7 linked regions of the Homo sapiens genome follow. The gene in region 2 interacts genetically with the main gene of each other region. Each region holds a gene or a part of one and is shown on either strand. Other genes may lie near its edges.

Evidence for each region.
Region 1: changes in TIMELESS (region 2) and REXO2 together harm fitness more than expected from each alone (negative genetic interaction), as found in Homo sapiens cells (one large-scale study listed by BioGRID).
Region 3: changes in TIMELESS (region 2) and PDSS2 together harm fitness more than expected from each alone (negative genetic interaction), as found in Homo sapiens cells (one large-scale study listed by BioGRID).
Region 4: changes in TIMELESS (region 2) and TSEN2 together harm fitness more than expected from each alone (negative genetic interaction), as found in Homo sapiens cells (one large-scale study listed by BioGRID).
Region 5: changes in TIMELESS (region 2) and MAPKAP1 together harm fitness more than expected from each alone (negative genetic interaction), as found in Homo sapiens cells (one large-scale study listed by BioGRID).
Region 6: changes in TIMELESS (region 2) and CACTIN together harm fitness more than expected from each alone (negative genetic interaction), as found in Homo sapiens cells (one large-scale study listed by BioGRID).
Region 7: changes in TIMELESS (region 2) and STXBP4 together harm fitness more than expected from each alone (negative genetic interaction), as found in Homo sapiens cells (one large-scale study listed by BioGRID).

The regions. Positions count from the first base shown.
Region 1 is NC_000011.10:114,442,047-114,446,440, reverse strand, and holds part of REXO2 (oligoribonuclease, mitochondrial precursor), read right to left. Parts: intron 2,586-4,394; coding exon 2,508-2,585; intron 1,901-2,507; coding exon 1,789-1,900; intron 463-1,788; coding exon 354-462; intron 1-353. UniProt on the Homo sapiens protein: 3'-to-5'exoribonuclease that preferentially degrades DNA and RNA oligonucleotides composed of only two nucleotides. Binds and degrades longer oligonucleotides with a lower affinity.
Region 2 is NC_000012.12:56,415,032-56,418,489, forward strand, and holds the end of TIMELESS (protein timeless homolog), read right to left. Parts: intron 3,329-3,458; coding exon 3,103-3,328; intron 2,978-3,102; coding exon 2,876-2,977; intron 2,756-2,875; coding exon 2,685-2,755; 3' UTR 1,332-2,684; downstream 1-1,331. UniProt on the Homo sapiens protein: Plays an important role in the control of DNA replication, maintenance of replication fork stability, maintenance of genome stability throughout normal DNA replication, DNA repair and in the regulation of the circadian clock.
Region 3 is NC_000006.12:107,151,490-107,155,886, reverse strand, and holds the end of PDSS2 (all trans-polyprenyl-diphosphate synthase PDSS2), read left to right. Parts: intron 1-1,109; coding exon 1,110-1,268; 3' UTR 1,269-3,325; downstream 3,326-4,397. UniProt on the Homo sapiens protein: Heterotetrameric enzyme that catalyzes the condensation of farnesyl diphosphate (FPP), which acts as a primer, and isopentenyl diphosphate (IPP) to produce prenyl diphosphates of varying chain lengths and participates in the determination of the side chain of ubiquinone.
Region 4 is NC_000003.12:12,490,771-12,495,164, reverse strand, and holds part of TSEN2 (tRNA-splicing endonuclease subunit Sen2), read right to left. Parts: intron 3,030-4,394; coding exon 2,948-3,029; intron 2,937-2,947; exon of another isoform or gene 860-2,936; intron 1-859.
Region 5 is NC_000009.12:125,700,391-125,704,784, forward strand, and holds part of MAPKAP1 (target of rapamycin complex 2 subunit MAPKAP1), read right to left. Parts: intron 1-4,394. UniProt on the Homo sapiens protein: Component of the mechanistic target of rapamycin complex 2 (mTORC2), which transduces signals from growth factors to pathways involved in proliferation, cytoskeletal organization, lipogenesis and anabolic output.
Region 6 is NC_000019.10:3,612,908-3,617,124, forward strand, and holds part of CACTIN (splicing factor Cactin), read right to left. Parts: exon of another isoform or gene 1,689-4,217; intron 1,683-1,688; coding exon 1,490-1,682; coding exon of another isoform or gene 1,486-1,489; exon of another isoform or gene 1,479-1,485; intron 1,024-1,478; exon of another isoform or gene 680-1,023; coding exon 557-679; exon of another isoform or gene 459-556; coding exon 151-458; exon of another isoform or gene 1-150. UniProt on the Homo sapiens protein: Plays a role in pre-mRNA splicing by facilitating excision of a subset of introns. Required for the splicing of CDCA5/Sororin, a regulator of sister chromatid cohesion. Involved in the regulation of innate immune response.
Region 7 is NC_000017.11:54,971,481-54,975,874, reverse strand, and holds part of STXBP4 (syntaxin-binding protein 4), read right to left. Parts: intron 1-4,394. UniProt on the Homo sapiens protein: Plays a role in the translocation of transport vesicles from the cytoplasm to the plasma membrane. Inhibits the translocation of SLC2A4 from intracellular vesicles to the plasma membrane by STX4A binding and preventing the interaction between STX4A and VAMP2.

The sequences.
Region 1 (4,394 bases), on a different chromosome or scaffold from region 2:
CGTTTTTTTACACATATGTCGATCCACTATTTTCTAAAGTACTTAAGAGCTTTTCATCTATATGTTCCCAGTCACAAGACTTCCACATAATATTAGTTAATCCAGAAAATGTATTGAGCACTTATTTTGTGCCAGGCATTGGCTTATTTACTGGGAACATGTCTGACGTTGTTGCTCCCAATTCTCACCAGTCCAGGGTAAGTTAAGGTCCTATACAAGCAAGAATGGGATGAGGAAGATATGAACCCACTTGGTAGCCTTAGTTCTACAGCTCTATCCAATTACTTTCCACAAATTCTCAATTAAAACATGCTAAATGAGGTAATTTAATGGATCCTAAATATAGCCCTTACCTGCACAGTTCTTTAACAGTGCTCACATCAATTATTCTATAATGAAGATGTTTCATGAACTGGGGCATGTATTTGTCAAGAAACTTCTTATCTTCATGAACTGAATTTCCTAGAAAGACACGAAGCATACTGCATCTCTATATTTCTAGTATTATACAACAGGATATCAAAATTCATAAGTTGTATTTGAAATGGAGATGATTTTTTAAAATTCAAACAATTCCTAAAAGCACCTCTATATTTCTAAATCAGGTTTGGGTAAATGTGATTAGCTTACAAGTACAGATTTCCAAGTACTTAGTCAGTTTAGCTCCTTATAAATTTGTAAATGACCTCTCATGAACAGAAGGACAAATCTATCATTCCACATGCTTGATGTAATGCACAAATCTATTTGTTACTTTCTAAGGTCATACCTGATATGCAAACTTTCTCCCAGTGTCACAAAATTCACACCACTAACACTAAAAATTTAACTGAATCACATAGGTAGATAAACCTTTATTTACAATCCAAATTTTTAAACAAATCATATGCATATTTATGTCCCCAAAAAGTAACTTATACTAAAAACACTAAATTTTAAATGAGACCTTTAAAACAGATATCAGCCACATTGGCTGGCGGAAACATTTACACAATATATGCTCTAGTACTTAATGCCAAAACTTATTTTTATAAATGTTTAAGAACAGTATTAGCTACCACATCGACTTACATATACAAACGTACATATACCTTCAGAGAAACATTAACTTCCCTCTGGCAATGTCACCCTTTTAAAAATCCTGGTAGAACAGGCCTGGTCTCTTTAGAAAGTCAATGACACAGGGGAAAAATAATAGGTGGAAAGTTTTACATTAAGAGACTAAAGAAATATAACTAAATGAAATGCACGAGCCTTGACTGAATCCTGGTTCAAAAACAAATATTTTGGGGAACATCTAATGTGGACTAGATATCATATGATACTGAATAATGTTTAATTATCTTCAATGCAATGACATTGTATTACATAAGAAAATGTCTTTATCTTAGGAGATGTTTGATGAAGTATTTAGGAATGAAGTGTCCTGATGCCTGCAATTTCCTTTAAAATGTCCAACAAAAAATAGGTAAAACAAATACGACACAAGGTTAACAATTACTAAATCCACTCCTCTGTGCATGTGAAATTTTTCCATCATAAAAATATGGGAGAAATTCTTATTGAGTAAGTTTGTGTTTCCCAGATCTCATGTCAGGTTTCAGGGCATTTTCCCAATACTCATGCTATAAACTACACAGAGAAACTTGAACAGAAAAGTTAAGATGTGTAACCCAAAGCAGGGTTAAGTGGAAGACATGGATGGGCTCGGCTAGTCTTTCTGGAACTGCAGTCTCTTGAACCACTACATATGGAAGACTATAAGATATACACAGGATTGGATTTTACCTGCAAGTGGACAGAGCCCTGGAGGAGTCTGCTGTCGTACAAAGGACAGAAATTCATACTCTGCCTGCTGCAATGTAATTGTACTCTCCTTCACTGCCTTGGTAAGGCCAGACTGCAAGAGAGAATCCCCAGCCCCCCACCAAAAACACATGTAAAGTCAGTTTTCAAAGGCATCCAGAAATGAAATTTCACTTTTAAAATGGGCAAATATAACCACAAATAGACCATTTTTAGAGCTCAAGTTCAAATTGCAACTGCCATCTTTGCACCATTTTTTTTTCTTCAAGAATCCAAGCCAACTTAGTTATGATCCTGACTGTTAATAGCATGTCCACAGTCAAAAAAGACGGTGTTCAAAGTCCAAGGATATTAACCTCTGGGAAGAAACAACTATTAACAGGAGAGCAGCAATCCCCCTTCTCTGAAAGTTGATGTCTAACCTTATCCAAAAGACTGACTTGAGTAATACTTGACAATCCACAATGCGTTCGCGACAGACTGAATGTAGGAGAGAAAAAAAAGAGGACATTCAGGAGAAGATGATCTCGAGAGGTCCCAAAGATGAAAAGTAAACAAGCAAGCAGTTTCCCAGGCTTGCCATGCAATCTTCTCTAAGCCTTTTTAAAATACCATCCAACAATGGTATCGGATTCAGGTGTGGGAGCAAAAAGCTTGCTACTGATCCCCAAAGCAGCAATCCTGTTATTTGGTAATGTTACCTTCCCGTGATGCTCCTTACACCAATCTGACATGCTGTCCAGCAACTCATCTGGTTGTTTTATAATCAGGTTAGGACCCTGTGGATGGGAAACGCCATCAGTCACCAAGAAACAACAGGAATAACCTTACTTTCAGAGGGAAAGCTTAAGCTGTTTTAAGGACTAAATATACATATCAGAGAAAGTAAGAGATAAGGATACTTTAAGTGTTCCCCCTTCATTCCAGCACTGTTCATTAAGGCAAAATAGAACATACGAACATACACACACCACTGAAAACTCTAATCCTACAAATAGATGACACAGATATCTATCAAGGGTCAGCAAACTATGGCCCCACACTTCAGCTATTTATTAATAGCTAGAAAGCTAAGAATGATTTTTACATTTGTAAAAGATTGTTTAAAAAAAAAAAAGAACATATGACAAGAACATATGACTGCACTCAAAGCCTAAACAATTTAATAACTTGCTCTTTCCAGAAAAGTCTGTCAACCCTTGATTATGAGTTCATTTTGAAAAGTGTCTAGGCCAAGCATGGTAATCCCAGCACTCTGGGAGGCCGAGGTGGGAGGATCACTTGAGGCCAGTAGTTCAAGACCAGTCCAGGCAACATAGCAAGACCTCATTTCTACAAAATTAAAAAAAAAAAAAAAAAAATTAGGTGGGCCTGGTGGCACACCCCTACAGTCCTAGCTTCTCAGGAGGCTGAGGCAGGAAGATCACTTGAACCCAGGAGTTCGAGGTTACAGTGAGCTACATGCCACTGCACTCCAACCTGGGTGACAGGGTGAGACCCTATCTCTTAAAAAAAAAAAGTATCTATATTGCAGGTGAAAAAAACAATTGCAAAACCATGTATGTATAGGTATGATTTCATTTACACTTGTTTTAAAAAAAACACGCATTTATATAAACATACAAAATATCAAGACAATACATAAACTTGGAGTAAGAAGGAGCAATAGAACAGGACAAAAATCCAATAGTTCACTACACACATACTTTGGATAGTTACACTGTTTTAACAGTATTTTTATATTTAAAAAAAAATTAAAGAGGTAATTGTTGATATCCAAAACACAAAGTAGCCCTCAAATTCTCAGCTCCATTTCATAGAACATCCAAGTATGAGTCTCTCAGATAAGTCCTGGCAGTTAACAGTAGCTACGGCATTAAAGCAAGTCACCTCAGCTTCTCCCTCTGTAAGATAGTGATAATAATAAACTGTACCCCTTCCCTCATAGAAATGTTAACAGGATAAAAGAAATTATAGATATGAGCTCTTTGAACTCTCTGATAGAAAAGTATTCCATAAATCCAAGGTATTATTACTACTAAGGTGGTAAAAACAGTTCACAATCACTGAAAGAAATGGCTAGAATTTAATTAAAATACGCCTGACATCCTACTACTAAAAAGGAGATTTAGCCAAACAAGAAAACTGGTGTTGGTAATCTCTGCGAAGAAACAAAAAATTTTGCTTGGATAACAGATGTTTTATGATAGTCACGAAGGAAAAAGAAAACCCAAACCTATGAAAATGAAAAAAAATACTCATACTATTAAAAAAAATACTAACAATGATGGAAAAATCAAACTACTACAAACTATTTTAGATCCCTATTTAGCAAGCCAAGGGACCACACCTACAGAAAAATTTTCAGAGTAGGATGCCTGCTCTTCTACCAGCATAAAACATTTTTCTCAGACTCTTATAAAAGAATAAAACATACTGCAGAACTGATAGCCCCTAAGCTTTTTTTTTTTTTTTAACATCTTTATCCTCATCTGACTTAGTCCATTTACAAATGCTGCATTCATCTGCAGCTGTGTGAATACATACCCAAATTTCCTCCAGGGTACATATCAACCTACGGGTCCATT
Region 2 (3,458 bases):
CTTTTTTTTTTTTCTTTTTTTGAGACGGAGTCTCGCTCTGTCACCCAGGCTGGAGTGCAGTGGTGCGATCTCAGCTCACTGCAACCTCTGCCTCTTGGGTTCACGCCATTCTCCTGCCTCAGTCTCCTGAGTAGCTGGGCTACAGGTGCCCGCCACCATGCCTGGCTATTTTTTATATTTTTAGTAGAGATGGGGTTTCACCGTGTTAGCCAGTGTCTCGATCTCCTGACCTTGTCATTCTCCCATCTCGGCCTCCCAAAGTGCTGGGATTACAGGTGTGAGCCACCATGCCCGGCCAATACATAGTAAATTTTCTATACTGATAAACACTGCTAGAAGAAACTGGAGCTGGAAATTTCAAAGAGGGATGGAAAGTCAGGGTCCAGTTCTGGACATTTCTTAGAAAGGCAGCCACGGCCGGATGCGGTGGCTCATGCCTGTAATCACGCCACCGGCTCATGCGGTGGCTCAAGCACTTTGGGAGGCTGAGGTGGGAGGATCATTTGAGGTCAGGAGTTCCAGACCAGCCTGGTCAACATGATGAACCCCCATCTTTACTAAAAATACAAAAATTAGCCAGGTGTGGTGGTGCATGCTTGTAATCCCAGCTACTCAGGAGGCTGAGGCAGGAGAATTGTTTGAACCCAGGAGCCAGAGGTTGCAGTGAACTGATACTGCGCCACTGCACTCCAGCCCGGGTGACAGAGTGAGATTCCATCACAAAAAAGAAAAAAAAAAAAAAAAAAGGCAGCTGCTAGGCCGAGCACGGTGGCTCACGCTTGTAATCCCAGCACTTTGGGAGGCCAAGGCAGGCGGATCACCTTCGGTCAGGAGTTCAAGACCAGCCTGGCCAACGTGGTGAAATCCTGTCTCTACTAAAAATACAAAAAATTTGCGGGGCGTGGTGGCTCGTACCTGTAATTTCAGCTACTTGGGAAGCCGAGGCAAGAGAATCACTTGAACCTGGCAGGCAGAGGCTGCAGCGAGCCGAGATCATGCTGCCACACTCCAGCCTGGGTGACAGAGCGAGACTTCGTCTCCAAAAAAAAAAAAAAAAAAAAAGGCAGATACTGGGGACAGCAGGACACAGCAAAGGAGCAGCACAGCCCGGATCATGGAGGGAAAACAGAGCAGCCCTGCTGGAAGGAAGCAGTGCTCAGGTTGCGAAGTGAAGAAAAGCTCAGGATGAAGAGACACCAAGACTGGCCAGAGCTAGAAAGTGTCTAGCCCTTGGAAACTTCAATTACCATGGAAATAGCTTCACTCCCACTTTTAGAGGCTATGGGAGATCCTCATCTTTTCAGGAAAAAATAAAAATGAAAAGTCAAAGCAACAGGGCAATCCAAATCCATCCTTTACTTAGAAGCCTTCCTGAGCTGAATGGCTATTTTCTCAATCTCACCTTTGCCCTACCTCGGCTGGAAGCACAGGAAGCAAGAAAGCTGACGTTTCCAAGAATGGGTAAGAACATAATATTTGCAGTATTTATCCATCCTTTTCATGCCTAGATTTTGTCCTTTTCTATGCCCCATGCCAACAAGCTGGCTTCTCTTCCTTTATGGCTCCTCCTTCTTCCTGCCGCATACTCTTGTCACCCTAAGAATTTACCCTAGACAAAAGGATCTAGAGGCAAAAATGCTTTTCTGTGTCTTCTGTAGGGAAAGCGGAAGAAAAGGGAAGGTTGTTGGTCTTTTTTTTTTTTCTTTTTTTTTGAGACAGAGTCTTGCTCTGTCGCCCAGGCATATGCACTGGCGTGACCTTAGCTCACTGCAACCTCTGCCTCCTGGGTTCAGGCAATTCTCCTGCCTCAGCCACCCGAGTGGCTGGGATTACAGGCGCATGCCACCATGGCCGGCTAATTTTTGTATTTTTAGTGGAGATGGGATTTCGCCATATTGTCCAGGCCGGTCTCAAACTCCTGACCTCAGGTGATCCGCCCGCCTCAGCCTCCCAAAGTGCTAGGACAACAGGTTTGAGCCACTGTGCCGGTCTGTTGGTCTCTTTTTACCCTAAAATTGTTAAGTTCTTCTTTCAAGAGCACAGCAGGGGAAGGGCTGGGGAACTTAGACATATCGCCAAGTCAGACTGAGATGAGAACTTCTAATCTTACATGTTTAATACCAAACACAAAGCAAACACATTCATCATCTAGAGTACTATATTCCAACCCTATCTCAAATGCAGGAATGGGCCTCTATCTGGTATCTAGAGGATGATCATAGGAAACAAAATGAGGACAGAGGCATCTGGTATCTTCTAAAAGTGGTACAAAACTCCCGCCTGTCATGTCATAAAGCTCCCCATCTGGTGCTGCGACCCACCTCCAAGAGAAAGCCAAAGGAACAGACCAATAAAAGGGGTCCGGGGTGCTTTCTCTATTTCACTCACTCCTCTTATTTGCTAAGGAGCTCCAATAACCAAAAGAAATGGTTCCTAGAAGAAGAGAACTAAATCTCCAGAGAGCTGCTGGGGCATACCGATAAAAACTGGGAGAAACAAAGACTGACAGCAGAGAAGTCCAATACTGCTGCTGAAGTTTCTCAGCCTAAATCCGTGAAAGAGCCTGGGATTCTACTGCTCTGTCCAGTAAGAGGAGCTTCTGGGTCCTGTATGACCCTTCCAACTCTGACTTGAATGCACCATCTAAAAACGTGTCTATCTCTACCCCTAGGCTTCTTAGCTCTTCAGTCATCCTCATCATCCTCAATCTGGTATCGTTTCTTCTTTTGGATTCCTGGAGCTCCCAACTCTGGTGCTGTGGGAACGATGGGGGTGAGAGAGAGAGAGAATATCTAAATATGTTAAGGGGTAAGGACGTGGTAGAGTTTGTCTTCAGGATTAGAGAAGAAAAAGAAGGTCCCATCAAATTCCCTACCTCTGTTCCTGCCCTCATCTTCTTCCTGTTCCTCGTCGCTGTCCAGCAATTGTCGTTTCTTGGGTGCTGCCTTCAGCGGCTCTTTACCAACAGCGTCTTCCTCTGCAATGACCATAAATGACACAAAATTAGGAACTCGGTCCTCATATTCTCAGAACACCTTTCCTGCCCTCTAGACCAACATGGCTGACACGTTAATACTCAGAAGATGGCTGTCGCACTATTACCCTCTGGGGATGCCAGGCCCGCTTTCTTCTTGTGGGCTAGCAAGAGGGCCCTCAGGGCTTGTGCTCGGTGCTCTTTACAGTGCTCCTCATCAGAGCCTTGCTCTCCAGGGACTTTAGGCTGCAGCTCTGGCTGCAGCTTCTGTTCCTCCTCTGGTTGACTCAAAGAAGCTGCTGCCCTCCGGAGCTGGGTAGGACTCAGCTTGGCTGGAATTCGCCAGAAGGTTTCCTACAGGGGCCAAAAAGTTGAAAAGGGAAAGGACCAGCTTTTTGTTTCCCAGAGTATGATATTCATTGAATATATATGACCCAATATTGGTGAAGATCCACAAGGGTTGTGAACTCTATTTATTATAATA
Region 3 (4,397 bases), on a different chromosome or scaffold from region 2:
AAAAAAAAAGGCCGGGCAAGGTGGCTCATGCCTGTAATCCCAGCTTTTTGGGAGGCTAAGGCAGGGGGATCACGAGGTCAAGAGATCCAGACCAGCCTGGCCAACATGGCGAAACCCCTTCTCTACCAAAAATACAAAAGTTACCTGGGCGTGGTGGTGCACACCTGTAGTCCCAGCTACTTAGGAGGCTGAGGCAGGATAATCGCTTGAACCCGAGAGGCGAAGGTTGCTGTGAGCAGAGATTGTGCCACTGCACTCCAGCCTGGCAACAGAGTGAGACTCCGTCTCAAAAAAAAAAAAAAAAAGTAACATTCAGATCTAATACTATGTGTCTTTCTTGAATTTTCATATGGACTATTGTGTCAACATATGGTGTTAAAAAAAAAGTTATTAACTAAGATATTAGTGAAGCCTTCCTCACATAAGAATATCAGGCTGCTGGCCAGGTGCGGTGGCTCACACCTGTAATCCCAGCACTTTGGGCAGCCTAGGCAGGTGGATCACTTGAGGTCAGGAGTTCGAGACCAGCCTGGCCAACATGGCAAAACGCTGTCTCTACTAAAAAATACAAAAATTAGATGGGTGTGGTGGCGCATGCCTGTAGTCCCAGCTATGTGGGAGGCTGAGGCAGGAGAATTGCTTAAACCCAGGAGGCGGAGGTTGCAGTGAGCCGAGATCGCACCACTGCACTCCATCCTGGGCGACAGAGCGAGACTCCATCTCTTTAAAAAAAAAAAAAAAAAAGGGAAGAATATCAGGCTGCTGAATTCAAAATGCCAGAGATGTAAATGCCCTCCGCCTTCTTACTGCCATCCCCCAGCATGGCACATTTCAAGATATTAAGGGATGGGAGTCAGGAGGAGCTGTAATTAAGCTGATTGGAACCTATTGTGCTGCTCTGGAGCACAGACACCAAGCAGCCTTAGGGAATGAGTGCCTCAAGATCACTGGGAAATGATGTCCTCTTTTCCAGAAAATAACGTAGCAGAAATACTCAATCTATACTATTTCTCCCTTTCTTTGTTTTCCATCTCCCCTCCCCAATTTAATTGTGGTGCTTACTGTGTACCTTTAAAACTGACTTTTATCATGCATTTGTTTCTTAACAGTTGCGAGAAAGAATCAAAGCTGGCAAAGGTGTGACTTCAGCTATTGACCTGTGTCGTTACCATGGAAACAAGGCACTGGAGGCCCTGGAGAGCTTTCCTCCCTCGGAGGCCAGATCTGCTTTAGAAAACATTGTGTTTGCTGTGACCAGATTTTCATGACATCAAATTAAAAAGACACTATTGTTAGTTAGCTGAAAATCCTAGGGAATGAGGTTGATTGGGAGCGCTTTCACGATGCGTTAATGACTTTTAAAACATATGCATTTTTCCTTCCTTTTATCACATTGCTAAATGAGTTCTGCTTTCTTTTTGGAACTGCTACAAACAAAATTAGAAGAAAAAAAGGTCAAGCAGTTTTCACTTGTCACGCCAGAAGCACACTTGAGGCTGCAGTCGCAGAAATAATTAATGAGATTCGCTCCTGTGACCTCAGCAAATGGACAGGAAATAAGTCCTTATTGATTGGACCGAGCCAGGGATGGCGCCAGGGCGGTGGCCTGTGGTTTTTCCTGCTAGAGAGGACAAAGCAAGTTGGAAGCTGCAGGTGTCAAGAGAAATGCTCTCAATACCAACCAGGGAGGATTGTCTAATCAAAAACTAGTGACCAATTTGTCATAATGGAGAGTAGTTCAATGGATTGAGAAAAATATGTTTTATTTGTTGGCTTGTAATTATGTCTCTGGATTATTATTATTTTTTTTTTAGATGTAGTTTTGCTCTTGTTGCCCAGGCTGGAGTGCAATGGTGCAGTTTTGACTCACTGCAACCTCCGCCTCCTGGGTTCAAGTGATTCTCCTGCCTCAGCCTCCCGAGTAGCTGGAATTACAGGCACCTGCCACCACGCCTGGCTAATTTTGTATTTTTAGTAGAGATGGGGTTTCACTATGTTGGTCAGGCTAGTCTCGAACTCCTGACCTCAGGTGATCCGCCTGCCTCGGCCTCCCAAAGTGCTGGGATTAGAGGCTTGAGCCACTGCACCTGGCCTCATGTCTCTGGATTTATAATGCAGTATGAATATACTTTGTGCTTTATGGTTTTTATAATGTCTTTTTGGAGAAATTGCCGAAAAGTTGCCAAATACTTGAAGTAGGAGATTAAAATGTTATCAAATGTTAAATTGGTTATATTAGGAATAGTCTGTTTTTCTTTCCTGAAGATCAGTTTTTTTATTCAAACACATTTCAAAGAACCAAATTTTTTTTTTCTTTAAGGAAAAAGGAGCTTTTTTTCAAGTGAAATGTATTCATTTGTAATACTTTGGTTTAAGGCATACTTTAATTTTTACGAGTTTCAGAAACAGAATTTTTGTACTAGGGAATTCATTGGTGAGAGTGTTCTTTTAACCTCAGAATGTCAAATTTTGGTCTTGAACCACAGACATCCAATTACAGAAAGAATATAAGCAATCTCACAGGCCTGCAATCGGACACTGTCTCTGTGTGGTTCATAGGAGATGATTTTTGAGGTTTGCACTCATGCAATTTGAGAACACCGTTGACAAGAAGGCTGAGTTTACATAAATGATCTAGATTGAAACTCAGCTACCTTTCTTCCTCATGTGGTGTAATTACAGCCCTATCTGGAGACAGCGAATACAGCAAACAGATTTTATTACCTAGTTCGCTCAAACACTACATGAAGTTATTTTAGTTAAAGCCCTCCCCCAAAAGTTATAAAACCATTTTATCAGGGCCCAACATGTGGCATGCAATGAAGAGAAAATGTAAAGCTACAGAGGTTAATGTATTGTATTATAAAATATTTTAAGTGTACTCAAAATATCATAATTGTACAGTTTATGCCACCATAATTTGAGGCCTATAGATTTAGCTTAAGAGAACACTGTTCTGTTTGAAATGCTTTCTGTCACTGAAATTGGCTTAATTAGTAACCATGGATAAGATGCTTTAGATCAGACTAGGTTTTAATCATTAACTTCCACAAAGAAGTCATACTTTGCGTTAGGTGTGCTGGTTGGATGTGCAGGAACTTCAGCAAGCAGTAGGTTTTACTAAGCAGATGGTCGGGCACTGCAGGGCACCAGGCAGGATCCTAGGGCGCCTCTTATTCTGCGTTAGCATCTGGTTTGCTGTATGACCTTGCACAAGTCACTTCCTTCTGAGCCTCAATTTTCTCATCTGTACAATGAGATTCAAAAGTTGACCTGAAAGTCAAGTGTGAAAAAAAAAAAGAGATTAAACAAGATAATTATGAAATTCTTTCCAGGTTTGTTTTATTTTCTGAAAGTTTACTATTCTTGACTGTCTAAATAGCAAAGATGCTGTGTGAGGTTCAGGGAGGAGGGAAGGTGAAACCCAAAGAGAGGCCCTGAAGGAATGGAGAGAGCTTAATGGCAAGCTTCCTGCCAAGCTGCCTCTGCATGACCTAAAGGATTCCAGCTCTCCTATGTGACATGTAACCCTGGACTTTTCTGTCTCAACACCTGCCTTGCTGCTTTCTTCGGGACCTTTCCTACCTCCCTGTCATCTTCCCAGCTGCTCTCGTGTCCTTTATCCCATCTCCTGTACCTTGCCATCCTGACTCCCTGGAACCTGGATCCCTGGGAGCAGTAGCCCCCTGCTGCCTGCTGAGTGACAGAGCTCTGCCTCCCCCACAGGGGTGGCTGGCCTCCTTCCTCAGGCCCCACTTAGCAGAATTCTCACTTCCTCAGCATCACGGCAGGCTTTTACAGAACATAACAAGTTGGCTAGTTCACTCCAAAATACAAGACCAATAGCCTTTCTCCCTGCCCCTTCTTCAGGGATATTTATTTCTTAGCACATATGAAGTTCTTATAGTTTCAGACAATCTCTAAGGAGAAATTTGGGGCACTGAAACATTCCTCAATCACACCTCTCAGCCTGCTGCTGCCTGGGTGTGGCTAATGGAGGCAGTAAGTAGAATTAATGGCTCTAGAATGTGTCCTTGGCCCCTCTCCAGCTTTCCCCATCCCCAGTTACCTGCTAGAGGGAAGAATTCATTCATTAGCAATTGTCCTGCTTTCCTCTGCCTAGCACCCCCCAAATTGTCAGCTGGCTCCTGCAAACCTCACTCACTACTCACTCCAGGCCCATGAACTCTCCTCCCTGTTCATTTCTTCTTTGTTAAGTATACTTGGCCAGGTGCGGTGGCTCATGCCTGTAATCCCAGCACTTTGGGAGGCTGAGGCAGGCACATCACCTGAGGTCGGGAGTTTGAGGCCAGCCTGAACAACATGGAGAAACCTCGTCTCTACTAAAAATACAAAATTAGCTGGGCATGGTGGCGCACGCCTGTAATCCCAGCTAC
Region 4 (4,394 bases), on a different chromosome or scaffold from region 2:
CTTGTAAAAATTTAACTTTTTTTTTTTTTTTTTTTTTTGGAGACGGAGTTGCATTATGTCACCCAGGCTGAAATGCAGTGGCGCGATTTTGGCTCACTGCAACCTCCGCCTCCAGGGTTCAAGCGATTCTCCTGCCTCAGCCTCCCAAGTAGCTGGGATTACAAGTGCCTGCCACCATGCCCAGCTCATTTTTGTATTTTTGGTAGAGACAGGATTTCGCCATGTTGGCCAGGCTGGTCTTGAACTCCTGACCTCAGGTGATCTGCCTGCCTCAGCCTCCCAAAGTGCTGGGATTACAGGTGTGAGCCACCATGCCCAGCCAAACTTTTTTTATAATTATGTAATACATTTATATGGTTACAAAGTCAAATCTATAAAGTCTCACCTCTCTCTGCATCCTGTTTCATCCCTTCCTACTGGAATTTTTAAAAAACTATGCTTTATCCTTCCATTTAAAAAAAATTGGTCAGGCGTAGTGGCTCATGCCTGTAATCCCAGCACTTTGGGAGGCCAAGGCAGGCAGATCACTTGAGGTCAGGAGTTTGAGACCAGCCTGCTCAACATGGCGAAACTCTGTCTCTACTAAAAATACAAAAATTAGCCGGGCATGGTGGGATACACCTGTAATCCCAGCTACTCACCCAGGAGGCTGAGGCAGGAGAATCGCTTGAACCCAGGAAGTGGAGGATGCAGTGAGCTGAGATCGGAGATTGCACAACTGTACTCCAGCCTGGATGACAGAGTGAGTGAGACTCTTGTCTCAAAAAATATAATAAAATATCTATTTTATATTTCCATCTTTTTAGATAAACCACAGCACAGCATGTACTTTCCTTTATACTGTGCTGTCTTCGCTTACCAGCATATCCTAGCGATCTCCCATTCCTGTCTCAGCTCCACGGTCCTTCATTATATGGATTAATTATATAAATATGGATTATTCCACAGGTCCTCTCCTGATGAACATGTAAGTTGTTCCCAGTCTTTGGATATTACAGTGTTGCATGAATAGCCCTGTGCTATTTCTTTTCATATTTTTGTCAGCGTATTGTTAAGATAAATTCCTAGAAGTGAGATTGCTGGATCAAAAGTAAACGCATATACTGGGACAACTGGATATCCACAGGCAAAACAATGAAGCTGGACCCTTACTTTACACAGTATACGAAAATTAACACAAAATGGACCAAAGACCTAAACTTAAGAGTTCAAACTATAAACCTCTTAAAAGAAAACACCAGGGAAATCTGCATGATTTGGACTTGGCAACGGTTTCTTAAATAGATACCAAAAGCACAGGCAATAGTAGAAAAAATAGATAAATTGGACTTCATTAAAATGAAAAACTTTTACCATTTAATACTCATTAGGATGACTATTTTATTTTATTTATTTATTTAGAAATGGAGTCTTGCTCTGTTATTTATTTATTTATTTAGAAACGGAGTCTTGCTCTGTCGCCCAGGCTGGAGTGCAGTGGTGCAATCTCGGCTCACTGCAACCTCTGCCTCTCGGGTTCAAGTGATTCTCCTGCCTCAGCCTCCTGAGTAGCTGGGATTACAGGTGCACAGCACCATGCCCGGCTAATTTTTGTATTTTTAGTAGAGATGGGGTTTCACCATCTTGGTCAGGCTAGTCTCGAACTCCTGACCTCATGATCTGCCCGCCTCGGCCTCCCAAAGTGCTGGGATTACAGGCGTGAGCTACCGCGCCTGGCCGACTATTATTTTTTTAAACAAGTGTTGGCAAGGATGTAGAGAAATTGGAACCTTTGGTGCATTGCTGGTGGGAATGTACAATGATGCGGTCAATGTGGAAAATAGTTTAGCTAGTTCTTAAAATGTTAAACAGACAATTATCATATGACCCATTAATTCTACTCCTGGGTATATATCCAAAACAACTAAAAATAGACTCAGATACGTGTATGCAAATATTCACAACAGTATTATTCAGAAAAGCCAAAATACAGAAACAATCTAAGTGTCCATCAGCAGATGAGCTAAAGGCACTATGTCCAAACAATGGAATATTATTCCACTATAAAACGGAATGAAGTTCTGATAGACACTATGGCAGGGACAAACCTCGAAAATATGCTAAGTGAAAGCAACAGACACAAAAGGGCAAATATTGTATGATTGTTATTTATATATGAAATATCTATAATAGGTAAATTCATAGACAGAAAACATATAAAGGTTACCAGGGACTGAGGAAAGAGAGGAATGGGGGAAAAGAAAACAAAGTAAATGCATAGGTAATTTTGCTAGACATTGCCAAATTCACCTCCATGAGGGTGGTACCACAAGCACCCCACCAGCAATGCAAGAGAAGGTCTGTTTCTGAAGTCCTCACCAATGCAGTATATTGTCAGACTTTTGGATTTCTGCCTGATTGTTGACATGTTATCTCAGTGCAGTTTTAATCTGTATATTTTCTTACAATAAAACCTTTAAAAGATCCTTTCTAATTATGTTTTAACATGCTGGTATTGGTTCTTAAGTAATTACCATGAGAATTCCTTAGATAAATATTCTAAAACATTTATAAATTAAAGAGAATCAGCAAGGGAGAACCACACACATACATGTCATGGCTATTACAAATTCTAATTCTGGAAACAAAATTTTAAAAATTTTGCATAGTGCCACAGGTGAGCAGGTACTTAACTACCAGTACCTGCCATAGGCATAGTACTCTGCTAAGCAAACACTTAACAACAGAAAAGCCCAATTAACACTTGATAATTCTAGAAATTAAACACACTGTCACCCAATCATAACCCTTTTGCTTTGATTAGAATTATTCTAGCTAACTTTGGCAGTAAAACTGCCAGTGTACATGTTACTTCTCTAGAATTTTACTATATAGCCTGAGATATAAGATCAAAAACAAAGGAAAATGATTAATTTGTCAAAAGAACTGAATGATACAACAACTTTACCTTTCCATTTAGCAACCAGTTTAGGATCTGAAATTGTGAAGCTTGGACGGCTTCTTGAAAGAATACCTTTTCCAAAATAACCCTTCCAGGAAGAGAGAAAATGAAGTTAGTTCATGCTTAGTTACCAGTTTTTTAGCTGAGGTAGAATATACAGTAATCCCTCAGTATCCACAGGGGGCTGGTTCCAGGACCTCTGGTGGATACCAAAATCGGCAGATGGTCGAGTCCCTGATATAAAATGGTGCAGTATTTATATATAGTCTACGTAGGCCCTCCCATATACTTTAAGTCATCTCTAGGCTACTTATAATACCTAATGCAATGCAAATGCTATGTAAATAGTTGTTATATTGTTTAATATAAGAAAATAAAGTCCCCGTTTGGTACACATGCAATTTTTCTCCCAAAATATCTTCAATCCAAGGTTGGGTGAATCCACGGAAGTGGAACCCATGATATGGAGGGCCGACTGTACCCATCTGAGTTAACAAGAGGTTCGCCCCACTTTTCATGTCTTTACATTTTCCCTCTGATTATCTAATGATGACTAAGGATGTTCTTAGCGTAACACCTTTCTAATCGCTTCAAGAGTACTAGTAAGTTTTTAGCACACCTCATTTATCCCATAACTAATGCTTTCAGTCTAGGTCTGATAAGCCGAGGGCAGGCAGAGGCAGAGTTTCTTCTCTACATATGGTTCGGGAACACAGTGTGCCTGAAGGCAGGAGCCATGCTGCCCACTAGGTCCAAAAAAACCTCTTGGATTCTTTTGTACTCCAGAATTGAAGTATTCCTCTCATTCCTGCTGATTCCAAAAACAACATGTATTTTTCCCCTTTTCATTACAAAATATTTAAACACACAGAAAATTGAAAGAATAAAACAAACACCCCTTTCTCCATTTAGATTAACAATCAGAATAAAGAGGCCAGGTATGGTGGCTCACACCTGTAATCCCGGCACTTTGGGAGGCCGAGGTGGGCAGATCACTTGAGGTCAGGGGTTCAAGACCAGCCTGGCCAACATGGTGAAACCCTGTCTCTACCAAAAAATACAAAAATTAGCCAGGCATGGTGGCATGCGCCTGTAGTCCCAACTACTCGGGAGGCTGAGGTGGTAGAATCACTTGAACCTGGGAGGTAGAGGTTGCAGTGAGCTGAGATCATGCCACTGCACCCTAGTCTGGGTGACAGGGTAAGACTCTGTCACAAAAAACAAACAAAAAAAACACCCAGCAACAACAAAAACCAAGAATAAATAATGCATACAGCACTTTATAAAGCCTCTTGCTTAATGTTATATACTGTAAATGAAGGCCTCCCTGGTGAGCTGCCCTTGGCCTACTGAGACTCCTGCCTCACCATGGCCAGTGCCACCCACTCTTCTATCAAGTGTCTAGAGAAGGCACATTTATGGAGACAAGACGCCATTCCGTGGCTGCCTTGGG
Region 5 (4,394 bases), on a different chromosome or scaffold from region 2:
CATAAAAGTATACTCACGTATAGGATATTAAGAATCTAACACTGCTTATATTTAGGCATAAATGTGACATAATATTCCACTTATTTCACAAGCAATTACTATAACTTAATTCCAATAGTTATTCTAATACCTTCTTGTTCTTTCTAGAGTTTCGGGTTTGTTTTTTAAGTGGTTTCTCCCATTTTTCTCACTTTCAATTACATAAAACTGTATTCTACTTTCAGTCCAAATTTTGTGTTGCCTATATTAAATCCATTTCCCCAATATATCTAGACTGCTGCCAACTAGAGTTAATAAATTTTGAATGACTGCTCAGGATTTATTCCCTTTATTTTTATATTCTGTTATTTCCTTATACAATAGAGTATGAATGAAAACAAGTATCTACAAGACCAGTATTTCTTCAATTTTCACCTTGTGAAAGCTGGGTATTAAAATAAAAATAAATTAAACTCTTGGGCTGGGAACTCCCTGACCATATTTCTCTCACTGTGCTGGGTGTCTCTACGCCCCCTTTCAATCTTGAGTACATATAGTCAATAGGCACTGCATGCACTGGGGGAGCACCTGGCCCATCAAGGGCCTTTCCCAGAGGAAGTAATGAATAAAGAACAGATGAAGAGCTGAGTAGTGGTTCCTGACCTGCCAGCAAGAGAGGAGGGGCAGCATTTTAGATTTGAGTCATCTCCACTGGAGTCTGCCAGTAATCAGTTGTGTGACTTTAAGCATATCAATTAGAAACAGAAAGCTTGGCATCCCGAAAAGAAAACCATTCCTTCAATTTTCTACCAATTTCTCTGCTGAAATGGTACTTATTTGTAACACAGTACCTTAAAATGAGTCCGCAGGGAACTGGAAAATGTTATTTTTTTGAAGTTTTACACATTCAGTATACTTTGCATCAGTAATAAAAGTATATTAGTAAAAGTATACTCAAGTATAGGATATTACGAATTGAATTTCAGCAAGACTTGAATTTTACTCCTCATTATTTATCCAAAAAGGAAAAAAGATCCGAGGATTTGTAAGTGACGTGACCAAACTCCAAAGGCTGTTAGCGGTATCCGCATATTCAGGATGCAAATCACTCTCTAGTCAACTGCACTTGCTACTAAACTGTGATTCACTGGCTGTTAGTGGTATCCGCATATTCAGGATGCAACACCCTCTCTAGTCAACTGCTCTTTCCACTAAACTGTGATTCACTGGGTGCCGATTTCTTCATCTCAAGAGGTGATGATTACCCCCTTTGTAATACTACCTATCTCATAGGACTATGAAGACTAAAGAAAATAAGGTATACAAGAGCATTTAACAAATTTACCATACCACTTCATACTATTGTGGAGAGGGCCAAGAGACAAGAAATCTGGTAGCATTTAAAGTGCTAAGAGCACAAAATAGAAGTGTTATAAGGTCATCTCACCAGCCAGATCTATACTTTAGCTTGATTATACAATAAAAGCATTGACCTTGCCACTCTCCAAAACTATCAGCGCAAGCTACAATGCCCCCTCACACTGGCAATTTACCATGAGATTTCTAATCAATAATCAAAACATTGTATTGTATACTTCCTGCTCTGAACAACAGGTACCAAAATTTCAGCAGCCAGGTAGGTTGGAGTTCACAATCAGGCAGCCTAGAATTACACTCAGCCCACAAATATGTTTTGATCAACATAATTTTTAATGGCAAATTTTTAAACTAAATACATTAAAATCCACGACATGCAGTGGCTCACACCTGTAATCCCAACAATTTGGGAGGCCATGGCAGGAGTATCATTTGAAGGCAGGAGTTCAAGACCAGCCTAGGCAACATAGATAGACACCATCTCTACAAAATTTTTTTAAAAATTAGGCCGGGCGCAGTGGCTCACGCCTGTAGTCCCAGCACTTTGGGAGGCCAAGGCAGGTGGATCACCTGAGGTCGGGAGTTCGAGACCAGCCTGACCAACATGCAGAAACCCCGCCTCTACTAAAAATACAAAATTAGCCAGGCGTGGTGGCGCATACCTGTAATCCCAGCTACTCAGGAGGCTGAGGCAGGAGAATTGCTTGAACCCAGGAGGTGGAGGTTGCAGTGAGTCAAGATCGCGCCATTGCACTCCAGCCTGGGCAACAAGAGCGAAACTCCTTCCCACAAAAAAAATAAAAGCAACAACTAGCTAGTACATGGCCGGATGCAATGGCTCACCCCTGTAATCCCAGCACTTTGAGAGCCTGAAGCAGGCGGATCACTTGAGGTCAAGAGTTCAAGACCAGCCTGGCCAACACGGCAAAACCCTGTCTCTACTAAAAATACAAAAATTAGCTGGGCGTGGTGATGGGCACCTGTAGTCCCAGCTACTCAGGAGGCTGAGGCAAGAGAATCGCTTGAACCCGGGAGGCGGACATTGCAGTGAGCCAAGGTCATGCCACTGCACTCCAGCCTGGGCAACAAGAGCGAGACTTTGTCTCAAAAAAAGAAAAAAAAAAAAAACTAGCTACACATAGTGGCATGCGCCTGTAGTCCTAGCTATTGGGGAGGCAGAGGTGGGAGGATCACTTGAGCCCAGAATTCAAGGCTGTAGTGAGCTATTACCACGAAACTGCACTCTAGCCTGATAGGACGATACCCTGTCTCTAAAAGTTAAATAAATAAATAAGAATAAATTAAAATCCAGATTTCCAGCATCTTTTCCAAAAAGTGTCAAAAGATCCAAGGACACTGGGCCCACTTCCTCACATGGCAACAAGCAAGTGGAGCTGAGCAGCAACTGCTCCCTTTAGTTTGGGCCCGTGCTCTCCAGTTCATCAAGGCCCAGCCTACTCATCCTAGTACATAACAGGCATCGGACTTGGAGACCACTGAGGAAGATGCTCAAACAGAACAATAATAATAATTTAATGAAGATTTGTTTACTCTTTTTTGGCCAGTTTTTTGTGGCTCTATCACACATTAGCTCTGTGACTCTTAAGTAACATATTTAACCACTAAGCCTCTTAAATTTAACACAAGCTGAAATATGCTGACTTCTGAGTCAAAAAACTTCACAAAAACTTCGAACTCACAGAAACAAGTCAGGGCACCTCCCATAGGGAAAAAACGTAATGTGGCCACGAATGGTGGCTCACGCCTGTAATCCCAGCACTTTGAGAGCCCGAGGCAGGCAGATCACTTGAGGTCAGGAGTTTGAGACCAGCCTGGCCAACACAGCAAAACCCCGTTTCTACTAAAAACACAAAAATTGGCCAGGCGTGGTGGCACCTGCCTATAGTCCCAGCTACTTGGGAGGCTGAGGCAAGAGAATCTCTTGAACCCAGGAGGCAGAGGTTGCAGTCAGCCAAGATCATGCCACTGCACTCCACCCTGGGTGATAGAGCAAGACTGTCTCAAAAAAAAAAAAAAAAACAAGTAACGTGACAGAAGTCCTTGTCATATAATAATTTGACATCTACAACTGCGTCCGTAACAGTAAGGCCTATACATCAGAATAACAGATTGCCAGCAAATTATCTTAGGCTGAATCATATAAATCCACTCAACTGCAAAAGTTTCTGAAGTCTTCAGGTATAAGTCAATAAGCAAAACAAGCTCCCCCACCAAAAAAGAAAAACATTTAAAGTAACAGATAAGGCTATGAGCTCCTTTAGTGCAAAGGCCACTTCCATTCCTCGTGATCCCTCCTGTCTCACAATGACTGGCACACTGAAGCTACAGCTCAAGGGCAAGTTTCTCTCTGAAGCCTTTCCAGAGGGTCCGCATCCACATCACAAAGAACAAGCAACATGGTGTAGTAATGAAGAGTGCCGATCTCAGTGTTCAGCAGATAATCCCCTCTATCTTACAGCTCTACCAGCAGCATAAACTCAAGGAAGTTATTCAAGGTCTCTGTGCCCCAGTTTCCTCATCTGTAAAATCAGGATGCTAATAACACCTTCTCACACGAGAAAAAAATGAGATAAAGCATTTAACATCACACCAGCAGAGTAAGTACTCATTACCTACCATCATCAGTGTTTCCTTCTCAGTGTTCTATGGTACCTCCTGGGGACTTCTACCTTAGAACCCACAGTACTTTATTATGGTTCACCTGCACACACACAGACATCTCCTCTACTAGAATGTCAATAACCTCAGGATAGGGACCCAATTTTACTTCTTTTTGTATCCCCAAGGTCTAACATTTTGCTTGGCACTGCTGAAATGAATCGTAGATCCTCGAAGTATTTATTAACTGGAAAAGTTATTAGCAGAAACTGGAATTTACCTCCCTTGCCTGGTACTCAAGCCCTCACTGACTCTGACCCCTACCGCCCCTCCAACTTTACGTCCTTGTACCCTGCTAAAAGAAGCAATGACTTGCATGACTCAGGCTGTAAACTCACTCACCAGTCTAAAACCATGCC
Region 6 (4,217 bases), on a different chromosome or scaffold from region 2:
TGACGGAATGCACGCTCAGAGACCCGGGGGAGAAGCAGCAAGCAGCTCCCCACTGACGCCAGCGGCTTCGGCCGGGAAATGAGGCTGGAGAAGCCCCGCCCCCAGCTCGCCCCACTGGCCCCACCCCCTGGCCTCCAGCCCCGCCCTTACCCGTGACCTGGAGCTGCTGGCGCGAGAGCTGCAGGCGCTGCAGGTCCTCATCCGGTTCCAGCACGTGCGCGTCCAGTGGCAGCTCGTGCGCCGTGAGCAGCCGCGGGCTGTACCTGCCGGCGTCGTAGTCGTCCAGGCTCTGCTGGATCAGGTCCTCCTCCATGAGCACCGCCTCGCCCTCGCCCTCGCCCTCACCGTCCCCGTCGCCGTCGCCCTCTGTCGGGGTCGCGCCGTCCACCTCGGCCTCCGCGGGGCCGCCCTCCGAGGAGGGCCCGGGCGGGGTGGGCGCCGCGTCCTCAGGCTCCAGGCTGGGAGGAGAGAGCGTTGGAGGCGCGGAGGCTGCCCACGGCCCCTCCATCCTGCTCCGCGTCTGCATCGGCGTCCCCGGGGTGCCGGCCGGGCCTACCTGCGGCTGGGGGACTGGGGCTCCTGCTTGAGGATGGGGAACAGCGGCTCGCTCTCCACGCCCTGCTCCTGCTTCAGTTTGTACAGCTTCTGCCGCAGCACGTCCTGGTGGCGCTCACGCAGCCTGGGACGCAGAGCCGGGGTCACCCGCATGGAGGCGAAGGGGCTCCGCGCCCCACCCCCACCGAGATTCTCACGCCCCTTATTGCTGCAAGGACCCTGAGAAGGTGGCGAGCAGCCACGGCTCTGGCTGGGACCTTTGCCCAGGCTTGGTCAGTTCAGGGTCAAGGCTTATGGGAGAGAGGACGAGAGGACGCAGGTACCCTGGTGAACCATCCCATGGCAGGGAGAGGTGGGTCTCTGTCTCACGCTGCAGTCTCAGTGTCTTGTGGCTGGGGCTGGCCAGGAGAAGGGGCCCAGCAGGACACCAGCCAACAAGCATGATAAATTTAGAGACATTTACAAATTAGCAGAGGAGACATGTATTTACACAGCGGTGCCAAAAACACTCCAGAAATCTGTACACAGCCAGAGGCCGGGAGGCAGCAGCGCTGGGAGGGCGCAGGCCTGGGCGCAAGGCAGTGGGGACAGGCAGGCCGCCTGGGGGCTTCCTGTGATGCCATGGCTGCTGGAGCGCGCCAGGTACTCGTTAAAGGGCGGAAGCTCCTGGGGAGCCCTGTGAGACCAACAGGGCTGACTCCAGGTGAGGGCACTGGAGCATCCTGGGGCCTTCCCGCTAGGGCACGGGACTACGCGCCCCCCGGCCCCCCTTCGTCACTCACAGGCTGGCCCCGGCCAGTCGGCACTTTCCTGCCCCTCTCCACCCCACATGGTCCCAGGAGGAGGCGAGACCCACCCCACCCAGGACTCAGGAGGGGGCGAAACCCATCCCACCCGGACGGCACCAACCCTGGTACCCGCACCTAGTGCTCACCGGGCCCGTGCCATGTGGGCACGAAGCTGCTGCAGGAGGCTCTCCCAGTAGCCCATGTCCAGGTTGGGGCCACCAGCGCGGATTTTGCCCTCGATGCCCTGGAAGATGACCTGCAGCTGGTTGTATGTCTTCCCCTTGAACACCGACTGCACATCAGAGCTGACGGAGGCGTTGACCCCCTCGCGGCGCTCACCTGCAGCGGGGTGGGGGCATGGGGGGGCGGTTCCACATTTCCTACGTGCTCCTCCACCCCATCAGGGCCTCCTCCCCTGCCATGGGGGGGTCCCCCTCCCCTCCTCTTCCCCCACAGGGGTCCCATCCAGTCCCGCCACCTCCCTGGTCTCAGGTTGTCCCCACCCTGGCCACAGCGGAGGGGAGGGGGTGGGCGGAGGTTGGGAGCCACGTTAAGATGCAGTTGCTGAGGCCTTGACCTGGAGGCCCAGGCCCCCAGCGTGGGGGAGGCCAGGACTGGCCCTGAGAATGCCCCTCCCCAGGTGAGTCTGATATGTGGGTCTGGGAACCCTAGTTGTGGGCCCGGCCCACCAACCTGGCCCAACTCTGCCCTGGCCTTGGGCAGTCCATGAGGGGGTTGGGGGGTGTGCTCGGTAGCCAGGCTCTCTGGAATTCAGATCTTCTCTGCCAGCCTGGGCTGTGTGACTGTGGGCAAGTGGCCTGCCCTTTCTGGGCCTTAGTTTCCCTCTGTGAAGCCTAGCAAAGAAGGCCACCCTGCTGGCCCCTGGGGAAGTCCTGGGCCCGCCCCAGGACAAACAGCTCCCCACCGCCGCCCCCCATCCTACATGGAGTCTGTCTGGCATCTACCACTGGCCCAGGGGCCCGAGGCTCAAGTCCCTCCTCGATAGACGGGGAGGCTGCTGAGGGCGGGAGTGGGGTGCTGGGAGGCTGGAGCCTAGCCTGACTCCGCGTGCTCTGCCCCACACCACGTGGCATCCCGGCGGCCTCAGTGCTGCTCTCAGGCCACTTCCACCCACCCCGCTGGGTCTGGCCTCACCTCGCAACCCTGCCCCTTGCTGCCCATGCCGAACCCCTGCCACCTCTGGGCCTTTGCACGCACTGTGCTTCCTGCCAGCTACCCATCCTTCTCTGTCCCATTCGCTTCCTGAATTCCTCGCATCCTCCATGCTCAGTGAGAACATCCCTTCCGCCAGGAAGCCCTCCCTGACCATCCAGCGATGGCAGCTTCCCGAGGCGGGCAATGGGGCTGGCTGCTGCTGTTCCCTGTGCCATGCTGGGCCCACAGGGAGCTTGGTGCATAGCTGCTGGTGACACACTGGGCGGGGGTGACCAGTGCAGGCACCCTGCTCGAGACCTGCCTTCTCCAGTCCCCGCTGGCGGACAGAGGGTCAAGAGGCCCACACCTACACCACAGGGGACTGGATAGAGTCTAGACGGACCCGAGTCCCCTCCAGCCAATCACCTGGGACCCTGGAATCGGCACCCAGAGCTGCAGCCCCTTTGCTGGGCGCTAAGTGGCACTGGAATCCGTGGCAGCCCCAGCCAAGCACAGCGCGGCCGTGCCCAGACAGGCGGGGCTACCACGAACACTGAAACCCAAGCAGAAGAGCCCAGCCGCGAGGCTCCCAGGAAGCCAGGCCAGGTGCCGCCAGGTCAGCGTCTATAGAAAGCCGGGTCTGGACATGCTGCTGCATGTCTGGATGCCTCCCGAATGCCCACAAGGGGGCCCGGGGGTTTAGGGGGTCCCAGCAGCTGCTAGAGGCTGGGGGTGCAGGCCAAGGGCCCTGGGGCTGCGTGGGGGAAAGGCCAGGCCCTACACAGGGTGGGAGGCTAATGAAGCTGAGCTGGGATGACACCCGTTTTCTACTGCACAACCTCCTGTAGGGTTAGAACTTCCTAGAAAAAGCTAGGTGCACCAAAATCTCACAAGTCACCACTAAAGAACTTATTCATGTAAACGGCCGGGCACGATGGCTCACGCCTGTAATCCCAGCACTTTTGGAGGCTGAGGTGGGTGGATCACGAGGTCAGGAGATCAAGACCATCTTGGCCAACATCGTGAAACCCTGTCTCTACTAAAATACAAAAAATTAGCCAGGTGTGGTGGTAGGTGCCTGTAATCCCAGCTACTTGGGAGGCTGAGGCAGGGGAATTGCTTGAACCCAGGAGGCAGAGGTTGCAGTGACCTGAGAACACACCACTGCACTCCAGCCTGGCAAGAGAGCAAGACACCGTCTCAAAAAACAAAAAAACTTATTCATGTAACCAAACACCACCTGTTCCCCAATAACCTACAGAAATAATAAAAAAACTTTAATTTTGTAAAAATTAAAAAGAAAAAGCATGCAGTCACTCATGCCTTTAATCCTAGCCCTTCTGGAGGTGAGGCAGGAGGATTGCTTGAGGCCAGGAGTTCAAGACTAGCCTGGGCAACACAGTGAGACCCCATCTCTACAAAAAATTTTCAGAAGTGGCTGGGCACAGTGGCTCACTTCTGTAATCCCAGCACTTTGGGAGGCTGAGGTGGGAGGATCATGAGGTCAAGAGATTGAGACCATCCTGGCCAACATGGTGAAACCCTGTCTCCTTAAAAATACAAAAATTAGCTGGGCGTGATGGCGCGCGTCTGTAATCCCAGCTACTTGGGCAGCTGAGGCAGGAGAATCGCTTGAATCTGGGAGGCAGAGGTCACAGTGAGCAGAGATCGCACCACTGCACTCCAGCCTGGTGACAGAGTGAGACTCCTTCTCAAAAA
Region 7 (4,394 bases), on a different chromosome or scaffold from region 2:
AAGCTGAGGGACAAAGCATTCCAGGCAGAGAAAAGGTCTGAGGGCAGTAAAACAAACTTGAGGTGTTTAAAGAAAAGAAAGAAGTGCAACTGGAGTGTGGTGAACAGGGAGAGAGTGGTAGGAGATAAGGTTAGAGAAGTAGGCAGGGTCTGGATTTCCTAGGGTCTTATGGGCTATGGTAGCAAGTTTGGAGTTTTGATCATATTTCACTTAACCTGACTATTCTCAGGAGACCTGAATTTGCCTTTCCCTTTATCTCTTACCTTTAACCTTCTAAAGGTTAAAAGTAAAGGCTCTAAAGGCTCTCCACTTTTGTACTTTCCCTAGTTTTCTGCCTTTGCCTTTAATCACATAATTAAATCACGTAATTAGACTGTGCTTTGGCCTGAATCATGTGAGACTGTCTGTCAGTGCATTTGAGATATAATATTGTGCCTATATCTGTATCTGCATCTCTATCTATATTTATATCTATTTACATCTTGACCAGGACTGGCTGCATAAATTGCAGGGCCCAATACAAAATGAAAATGCAAGGCCCCATGTTAAATAATTATTAAGAATTTTTAGCAGGGCATGGTGGTATGCGCCTGTAATCCCAGCTACTACTCAGGAGGCTGAGGCAGGAAGATCACTTGAACCTGGGAGGCAGAGGTTGCAGTGAGCCGAGATCATGCCATTGCACTCCAGCCTGGGTGACAGAGTGAGACTCCGTCTCAAAAACAAAAAATAATTTCAAGATGCTGACAGTAGAGCATTAAACAAACACAGGGCTTATCTAAGTGGGGTAGGAATCAGGACTTGGAACGAACCTGAGGATCAGCTAAAAAGTTCCTGGATAGAAGCCTTTCCAGAAGACATGGCCACCAGTGTGCCACATCAGTTTACTATCGCCATGGCAACATACAGATCTTACCACCCCTTTCCATGGCAATGACCCTATGAACTGGAAATTACCACACTCATCCTAGAAATTTCTGCATAAACTGTCCCTTAATTTGCATATAATTAAAAGCGGGTATAACTATGAGTTTGCAAAACTGCCTCTAAGCTGCTATTCTGGGCAGAGTGCCTATGGGGTAGCCCCTTTCTGCAAGAAGCAGTCTCTCTGCTGCTTACTGTACAATGCCACTTCAATAAAAGTTGCTGTTTAACACCACCAGCTTGCCCTGGAATTCTTTTCTAGGCCAAGCCAAGAACCCTCCTGGGCTAAGCCCCAATTTGGGGGCTTGCATGTCCTACATCATAAGTGAGGGGCCCTTTTAAGAGTAGGGCCTTGTGTGACTGCACAGGTCATATTTTCATGAAGCTGGCCCTGATCTTGATAAACATTACTTGAATTAATAAATGCCTTCTATTGATAAATGATTTCTGTTTTCCTTTCACATTATCTGTCAATCATATAAACTTAATCAAGAGCTTTTAAACGGAGTAGTTCCTCAAAAAGATGGCACAGAGGCCACTGCCAGAAAATAAGAAACTAGGGTATCAAAACTGACTGAGACGACTTCAGGGCATTATTGTGCACTAATTGGAAAACAATGATTACCCTGCCTTTTCTTAAGCAAACACCATATATTTGTACTTACTATTTATTCAAATACATTATTCTTATTCTTTTAGATACAAGTATTGTGATAAAAATAGCTACCAAATAAACAGTTGTGAGTATTGTCAGAATTATTGTTAGGTATTTCACATCGTTAAATGGATTCAGGAGCTTTATCAGGAAAACCACTAGAAAATACAGTTCAGTGACGACCACCATATTAAGACTGAAGTCCCAATTTCCTTAACTTATGTTATGGATTAAAAATACCAAAATTTAAAATAATACATCTTTATAATCCATAGAAAGCCTAAAAATCAATAATCAGATAAGAAAACATTATGTGAATATCAAAATGGCTTATATGAAAAATAACTTATATAACTTACTTTACCTAATATATAAAATTGGACATGATTATAGCTAACCAGAAAGAGTTTACAAGGTTTAACGTTTATTGCTGAAGAATAATGTTGCAAATTAAAGGTGTCAAATCTGAAATGTCAGTCCAGCTCTTGATATTTAAAATGTGTAATTAACACCTCTACCTACAAAACAGGGTTGGATTAGCCCTGCCCTGAGGAGCTCTCATTCCATTCATGGTATAATCCATTATTTGGCATTAGTTATCGTAACAATTTATGTATTATTACAAGCACACTCAGACTCACAAAAATTGCAGCCCAGGCTTATGCATTCATTTAAAGCTTTAGAGAAAAAAATATTCATTTCAGCATCTCCCAATGTTGTATTGTTATTGTATCTATGCATATTGACAGACCTTTCATCATCATAAGAACTCCTTGTATCCAGGTTATAACCTCGGTCTCTGACCCCAATCCTACTATGCTCAACTCTGTCTAAGCTGTTTGTTCTAGCTTAGAAATAACTTCAAATATGCCATCTTACAAATAGGCATCTAACCACGTTAATGATGATTTTTACCTGAGACAAAAGTAAAGAAATATTTCCTAATATAGAAAAGAAAGGCTTCAGTGTTTTTGTTGTTGTTTTGTTGTCATCCGTTGCAAAGCTGCTTTCTACAAGACGCAGTAAAAATAGCAAGTTGTAAGGAGTCAGAAAAAATCCAGGCTTAAACTCCAGCTCTGCCACTACCCAACCGATTAGGCTTGGACAAGTTAACTCATCATTCTAAGCCTGCTTCCCCTATCCATGCGCTGAGCTTGGGAAAAGGGTAGGTGAAAGGGCCTATGTGTCTAGAACCAAACTTCCTAACTGGCCTTTCCTCCTTCCTCCTACCCTTTCTAAAATGTCTGGAGCTGAACTTCCTAAATACACTTTTCTCTTTCTTTCTTCCTCGTCACTTTTGTCTTGCTGAGTGTTTGGATGGTGTCCAGTGGGCAGCATATTTAATACTCAGCTTTGGGCTGACATACCAGGCAGAGATGAATTCACTTTTCTAGGGCCAAGCTTTCAGCCACAGTAATTTGCTTACATATGGGGGGAATTGAGCAAGTAAGTACATACACTGAAGATAAAGGTAGCCAGATTTCCTGCTGTTGAACACACATATGCACACTTGTTTATACACAAAAATTTTCTAGGGTCTCTGCTGAGAGAGGCTAGTAATGAACACTTCTAGTGCTCAGAGTTTTTTCTAAATGCCACTTTCCACTAAAGAAACCAAAATTCGTGGCAGAGAAGGCTGATTCCAAGGCAGGTCAGGAAAATACAAGATAAGCATGGCACATTGTAGTGCCAGAAAATAAGGAAGTGATGAAAGAATGATGGAAACATGTCATAAAGGGGCTTCTATTGGCTAAGTCTAAGAAAATTTGAAATCAGAATTAAAAAATAATAGTAATAAATTGATTAAAATTTGAAGTCATGAGTCTATATTGATGTAAACGAATAAACAAGAAATATATGGTATAGCAAGGAAAACCCTACCTTACAGTAAAATGCCAACTAATAAATCTAGAAGGACTGATAACATTAGAAAATTGTCATTTGGCATCCATCACAGTGATAACAGATTCAAACAAGAAGCATCAATGGAGAAATCTGGCAGGAGAAAATATGATGAGAAACAGAATATTTACAGTCTCAAAGCTTCTCCCTACAAAACACAAAGATTCTCCCCACAAAACACACATTGCCTATTAATTTATGAATGTGACATATTTGCTAATTCACCTTGTAACAGAGAAACCTGGCAGACCCAATCTTAAAGAAACAGAAGTTAACATCATGAAACCACGGAATAAATTGAGATCATGTGATGCCTAAGAGGACTCACTGATTGAAGCACAGCATCTCCTCTAAGATATTCCTGTCAAGGGGTCACAAACATGAGGAAACATCAGACAGACCTATATTGAGGCACATTTAATCACGTAACCAGCCTGTATTCCTCAAAAATGTCAAAGTCATGAAAGATAAGGCTGGGTGCGGTGGCTCATGCCTGTAATCCCAGCACTATGGGAGACCAAGACCACCTAAGGCCAGGAGTTTGAAACCAGCCTGAGCAACCCAGCAAGATCTTGTCTCTCAAAAATAAAAATAAAAATAAAAATAAAAAAGGAAAGAAAAAGACAAGAAAAGACTGGCAACTATTCCAGATTGAAGAAGACTGAAGAGGCATGACAACTAAAATCAACGAGTAATCCTGGATTAAATCCTAGATCTAAAATGGAAATGATTGGGACAAATGGGGTAATTTATGTAGAGTCCATGAATAACATGATGTAAAGAATTTAATATATATCCCCCAAAATCCATATGTTGAAGCCCTAACCCCTCAATGTAGCTGTATTTGGATTAGGAAGTAATTATGGTTGAATGAGGTCATAAGGGTGGGAACCTGATCTCATGGGATTGGTGT